2 separate regions of the Homo sapiens genome follow, and region 1 is reported to be linked to region 2. Evidence: microRNA targets listed by miRTarBase, many of them from high-throughput screens and not tested one by one. Region 2 holds a microRNA gene; the other region holds the end of a gene's coding sequence.
What was found. Region 2 holds the annotated microRNA hsa-miR-491-5p (AGUGGGGAACCCUUCCAUGAGG, at 1,667-1,688, opposite strand). A microRNA usually pairs through its seed, bases 2 to 8, with sites in the 3' UTR of a target mRNA and lowers its output. Matches are read on the target gene's strand: a 7mer-m8 pairs with bases 2 to 8, a 7mer-A1 pairs with bases 2 to 7 and ends in A, and an 8mer does both.

Region 1: miRTarBase lists TRMU as a target of hsa-miR-491-5p. The part of its 3' UTR that is shown has no 7-base or 8-base seed match.

The regions. Positions count from the first base shown.
Region 1 is chr22:46,356,700-46,360,125 of GRCh38, reverse strand. It overlaps TRMU (tRNA mitochondrial 2-thiouridylase), which reads right to left. Exons shown (of 11, transcript NM_018006.5): 11 at 2,786-3,284. The coding sequence ends at 3,120. Among named protein-coding and RNA genes, the nearest start is that of TRMU, 23 kb to the right of the region's middle.
Region 2 is chr9:20,714,808-20,717,807 of GRCh38, reverse strand. It overlaps MIR491 (microRNA 491), which reads right to left and starts at 1,703; the gene lies at 1,620-1,703. FOCAD (focadhesin) reads right to left here. Exons shown (of 44, transcript NM_001375567.1): 2 at 2,398-2,486; 3 at 1-14. The coding sequence starts at 2,454.

The DNA of each region.
Region 1 (3,426 bases), not on the chromosome of region 2:
TGGGTTTCTCCCAGAGCTCTAGCCACCTGCACTGTCTCACGCTTCCACCCTTAAGGAAACAGGGCTCACCCTTAAGGAAAAGTAGTGACAGCAAAGAGAGAAAAATGGGAACCCCAACCCTCTCTAGTCCACAGTGCCCCCGTTTCCCAGGCCTCTCTGGAGTTGTTGCCCTGGTGCTGGCTGCACAGGACCACAGATTAGGGCCACCCCCGGGTCAAATCTGAGAGAGGAAAAACCACCCATGTGCCTGAGGTCATTTTTCAAGTTGTTGCTTTCTCCTCAGTTCACCTGCTAACGTTTACATCCTAGAATGCTCAGTGGCTAACATGATAGAATATTTCTACCTCAACCCCAAAGCCATGATTAGCAGGAAAATACTAGAAGCATCTGAGAGAGAGAAAGCAGTCCAGGTAGCCCGGAGCAGGCCTGTCCATCAGCCAGGCCAGGATGTCCATGTGAGGACCACGAAGTGCTCCGCAGAGCATCCGCAGCAGACCGTGACGGGTGAGGGCTGAACGAGCCCCTCTGTGATCCTGCCTGAACAGATGACAGCACAAACACCGGCCAAGCCACAGGGCGTCGACTCCCCCGGCCCAGGTGACAGGGGTGACCGCAGCTGCTTCAGTCACAGCTTCAGCCTCGCCTTGGGCTCCTCAGCCTGGAGGCAAGGCTTGTTAAGACCCCCAGGAGGGTCAGGCAGTGGTCCATGTCTGTAATCCCAACAGTGGCTGGCTGAGGCGGGAGTTCCAGACCAGACTGGGCAACACAGCAGGACTCCATCTCTACAGTTTTTAAAACTTAGCACAGTGGATCATGCCTGTAGTCCCAGTGCTTTGGGAGGCTGAGGCAAGATCGCTTGAGGCCAGGAGCTCAAGACCAGCCTAGACAACATAGCAAGACTGTTTCTAAAACAAAATTAAAGTTAGCTGGGTGTGGTGGTGTATGCCTGTTGTCCCAGCTACTTGGGAGGTCAAGGCTGCAGTGAGCTGTGATCACACCACTGCGCTCCAGCCTGGGTAACAGAGCAAGACCCTGTCTCTTGAAAAGAAAAAAAAAGAAACCTCCCCAAGAAGGAAGGGGCTTGGGCCCAGGCAAGGCTCCGGCACAGGGCAACATGGGAGCCAGAGACTGGGGAGAAGGCAGGCTCAGGGTGTTTGAAACCAGCTCAGGGCCTCGGGAAGGAGCCTCCCAGGTGTGAGGTGAGGGGGCATCATCCTAGGACCCATGTATCACTGAGATTATCCGGGAACAACGTAGGGGGAGAGGAGAGCGAGGGCTTTGCTTTCATTTGTATCACAAGCAGGGAGTAGGTGTAGGTGTACAGGCACCCAGCTCTTGGCCTGGAAAATGTTCCCCCATCGTCTTCATGGATAGGTGTGGCAAGGGGCTAAGGCCAGGCCACTGGGGGTACCCTTGCAGGCAGAAGGGGCTACCTAGCTACCTGTGCTCCTGGAGGCCCCCAGGTCTTCAAGAAGTCATCTGAGGGGCACAGCCTCTGGAGTGTGCCAGCCTTGGGTGCTGGGGAGGGTAGGAAAGAGGCCAGAAGAGCAGCCTGGAGACTTGGTCCCCTGGCCAACAGTTTCTGCTGAATCTCTGAGACATCGCACCAAAGCCCTCCAGAGTTGGCCAGTGGCCTTGTAGGGGGCAGGGCAGGCCATTGTGCCTGCTAGAGAGGGGAGCCCTGCCAGTCAGGAAGCTGTCACCATGGAGCCTGGGGGCTCAAGGGGGCAGAGGCAGGTTTGTGTCCCCGCTTCCTCCACTGGCCGATGCACAGGCCCTGAGGCTGGCAGGACGGTGGAGCCCGCTGGAGGTTGGAGCGGGGGCAGCCTTAGCGCTGCTGGCCTGGTGCCCACACCACCTTCTGCCTGGCTGCCCCACCTCCCACCTACTCATGTTTCTGTGACCTGGGAGGGTTCACCTAGGGCAGAGCAGTAGGCACCACAAGGGCTCTCCCACCCTCAGTTCCCAGGCTGGAGGCCCGACCACAGCCATAAATCAGGGAACCCCTGAGCCCAGGGAGGCTCCGTGCTGGGCTGAGCTGGCAGAACAAACGCGGCGCTTTAGCTCGGCCTCCATGCCCAGCTGGGCCGAGGATCCCCAGGGGCCTGTCTGGTCCCACTGGCCAGCGCTCTGCCTGCCTGGTAGAGCTGGGGCTTGCCCCTGGCCAGGGCAGCACTGACCCCACACCCCCCACCTCCCCACCCCAGCCCAGCAAGGGCCACGGCTCCACCTTAGGCCCCGTTTCCTCACCTGGCCTGCGGGGTTCTGGCCCACTCCTCACCCTCAGGACACTCCCTGCTGCGTGGGGGCCTAGGCTAGAAGGAAGGGTGCCCCAGGTCAGGGGACACCCAGTGGGGAGATGGGAGGAGGGGTCAGGATGGACAGTGGGCCCCATGGCAGCCCCCACCCTGACGCACCAGCAAGAACTCAGGGCATCTGGGCAAGGCCCTCTGCGCACCACCTGGCTGCCTCTGGAACCTTCCCACCCAGAGAAGGGGAATGCACCTCTGGTCCCCGCAGGAACCTGTCTTGAGGCACCAACAACACGCTACGAAGGACTCAAGCCCAGCAAGAGGAAGAGAGCCAAGGACACAGGTCAGCATCGCAGGCACCTACTCTGGAGTCCAGGAGCAGGGATACGGGGGCAGAGGATGGAGCAGCTGGGACCTCAGGGAGAGGTACGCAGGTTGCCATGGCTGCGTCTGCAGTCCACCTGCCTTTCCACGCCAGGGAGTCAGTGATGTGGAGCCCCCTGGGCCCCAGTGGAAGCAGCGATCAGACTATGTGTCCTTGAAATAATGTTTATTCCACGCTGTCCCGACAGCCCCCTCTGCAGGTCCCCTCGGTGTACTCTGAGGTGGGAAACCCTCCCTGGGGGCGGTGAAGGGGAACTCGGGCCACCCCACCAGCCAGCAGATGCTCCAGCAGCCAGAGCCCCAGCCTGGAGCTGAGGCTCTTCCTGGGGCTCGCCGGGCCCCTGCAGGCTTTTCGGACCCTCAGCCAGCCCGGCTTCCTCTGCTTTGGGCAGCAGCAAGCTGGCCCTTGGGCACCTGGACTGCTCACCAGCCGCCCAGCCATGGGTCCTGCTCTCCAGGTTCCTTCTAGCAGATCCATCTCTGTCAGAGCAAGGGACTCAGGCCTGGACCATCTTCTGGGCTGTCACTGGGGCTCTCAGTGGCCATCCCAGCTCTGCGCTGGCCCTTCTGGAGCGTGTAGGCAGACGGCCCCAGCCGCAGGATCTTCCCGCTGCCCAGGCACTCGTCCCCCTTGTAGAACACAGCAAACTGTAGGGGAGAGACCCTGGCATCAGGGGTGCCACAGGGAGCCAGCCGAGGGCAGGCAGGGGCAGAGTGCTCCCCTATGGGGCCTGGCCTGTGCTCGGAGCACCAGGCACTGAGCTCCCAGGGGAGCAGGGTTTTGCTGCTG
Region 2 (3,000 bases):
AGATGACCCACAGCCTTAAAAAGAAATAAAATTAATGAACACAGTCCCTTAGAAGTTCTTTCCAAATATCAATACTAGTTGATATGAGTATGCCAGGCAGTCAATTAGGATTAAGTAAAATTCCCATTAACTAAGTGTGTGCTATGTAGAAGGCATTGAATTAGGCACTCCACATGCACAATTTCTAATCTTCAGAATAGCCCTCAAGGTAGGCATATCTATCCCAGGTTACCAATAAGCAACTATAGTGCATAGAGGTTAAGAAAACTGCCAGATTTTTGGTTCAAATTGCTGTCAGTATCAGAAGATAACTTGAGATTGCTTACTCCATTAAAACATGAATGAGAAAGCCCATAGTTTTTAAAATCATCTTTGCACTGAAACGAAATCCACCATGCTTCATCACACTGTTAACGAATATGAAGAATATGTCTTAGAGCCAATAGGCTAGCAACAATCATTGCCATTCTGTGTACGGGTTGGAAACTACTTCACTATTGCTACAACTGTCCATCCTGCACTTGGGACCAAATTACGGTATAGCTGTGAATAACTGTCAGTCCTGCAAAGTCTCCAGAACAGCTCAAATAAAAACACAGCACCCACTCCTTCCTCATTTTTCTCTTTGTATTTCACACATTGGAACTGATTTAAGACCGTGGTGCTTGTGGTCTAGTTTTGTGATATAAGTCACTCATTTACATGAATATTAAGTTTAGTCCAACTTACTGTCTCTTATCTCCTAGTAAAAGGAATAGTAATAAGAACTGAGCACCCATGGATAGGTTGAGCTCCTGTTTTACAAAACATACCATATTTCATTGAATGGAACTGACCAGGAATTGCAAGTTGCACCATTATACTGTGTGCCACTAAGAAAGAAAAAAGGCTGCCAATTAGTCTATGATATACAGTGCTTCTTATAAGTCGGAATTTTGGTTTTATAGTCACACAAGAGTTCTTTTAGACTCGTGTAGAAAATCATGCCCAAGTTCACAAATGTGCAGGCAATACCAACTGTATCTCAACTGCTGCCATCAATTACTAGAGGCAATCCAATTTCAAAGATGTTAAAATCTGAAAAAAAACGTGTGTGAATCAAAGAAATATGGTGCTAACATCGAGCAGTGGTTACAGAAGAACAATAAGAAATATTTGCAAAGGACAGGACACAATCACAAGAACCTAATAAAACTAATATGAAACACAATAGGGACAAAGAAAAAGCTATAGTTCATATCTAGAAAAAGAAATAAAAGAAGAGAAGCTTAATTCCCCATTCCCCACCAGGTTGAATTTATCTAATATACTTTTCACTTCATCTTCTAACAAATCAGAGATACTAGCCTAAACTGATTTTTTAAAATACAAAACCCAAGGATAAATCAGCCTACATTGCTACTTAAGTGTTCTATAACAGAATTCAAATAGCCATCCTACACTAAACAATATAAATATATATATATATTTTTTTCACCTAATTTAACAGTAACACGTATGGGCATTTCTTGATTATCTATGTTAACAAAGAGACTCCAGGCACAGAAAAATAAAACTGTGAATAGTATCCTCCAAGCCTTCATCTTCTTCTTCATGGTAAGGACCTGCAGGATATGACTCCAACCCAGCCAGGTAGAAGGGAATCTTGCATAAGGAGTGTTCTACTCCTCATGGAAGGGTTCCCCACTACCCAGCTAAGTCAATTCCCACAGCAGACATCTCCGAAGTTAATTGTTGAAAGTATCCAAGGTGCTGTATGTTGTTAAGTCTTCAAGATGGCTTCTGCTGGTCTGTTAGCTTTACTCTCACAAGAAAAGACAATAAGCTATTATGATACCTTGATTAACCAGAATGTTTCTAGTTAGCTAAAGGCTACCCAGAAAGCCATCTTTGTTTTAACTATTTAATTATTGAAAAGCTCTTTAAAGTTATCACAATCTTCTATCTTAGTAGATATATCAAATTTTCTAATCCAGGATATTTTACTTATTAAATATCATTATTATAAAAATCTATATAAGGGGTAGGATATGTCTTCTTAAATATTAATCCCTCATACTCTTCAGACATATAACTGTTTACCTCTGTTCCCAATAATCATAGGCCAAAAAAAACCAAACAAACATATTCAGGGGCCTACTAGTTAATCAAGGTTTTATTATCTCTAGGAAGAAAAGTATGATATATAAACAGAAGCTGAGATTGATCAATTTCAAATATTTGCTTTCCATGTCAAATATATATTTTCAAATTAAATGTATATTTAAAGTTGTTTCACAAAATATAAATCTCTACATGTAGAATAAAATATTTAATATTAAATATATAAAGTTCAGTTAAAAATCCACAGAACAGGTTTATTTGTTACCATGAGCAAAAATAAACAAACAAAATTACCTGTGATTGGATAAGAGAATTTGGAAATTCAAACCTTTTCCTGATATCATCTGACATTTTTGCTTCTCTTACATGTATGTGTGCAGCTTCTGTAACCAAAACAAAAGAATATTTGTTAGTCTTCCAACTGGTCTGAATTGGGGCTCCAATTAATTATTCCTCAAATAATGTGAATGTAATCCATTCCAAAGATAACAATGGAAATAAAGCACAGGGCTCTGCAGAGTAATCCTTGGCAAAACTTCATTGTCATCCAGCACTCAAATGTCATGATTGATAAATAAACTAAAAATGCCCAACAGCTCTTGGTTTTTCCCATGAGAGCTAATCCTGAAAAAGATGAATTTGCACTACGGAAATGAAAAAAACATCCAAAAGTTCAACCACACATTTGAAATAGAAATTAATTCTTTTGTGGATCAAAACTTATAAGGGAGAAAGAGTCAAACGGTCATAAAATTACTTCATCTATGCCTCACTTTGGCACAAGCTTTCATCTAAGCACTAATCCAACTGCTAGTGACAAGTGTGAAGCCTAGGTGAACTTTTTTCAAGAAGTATAGAAAAGACCTAGAAGTTCACACATTAAAACAGACTGTTTCC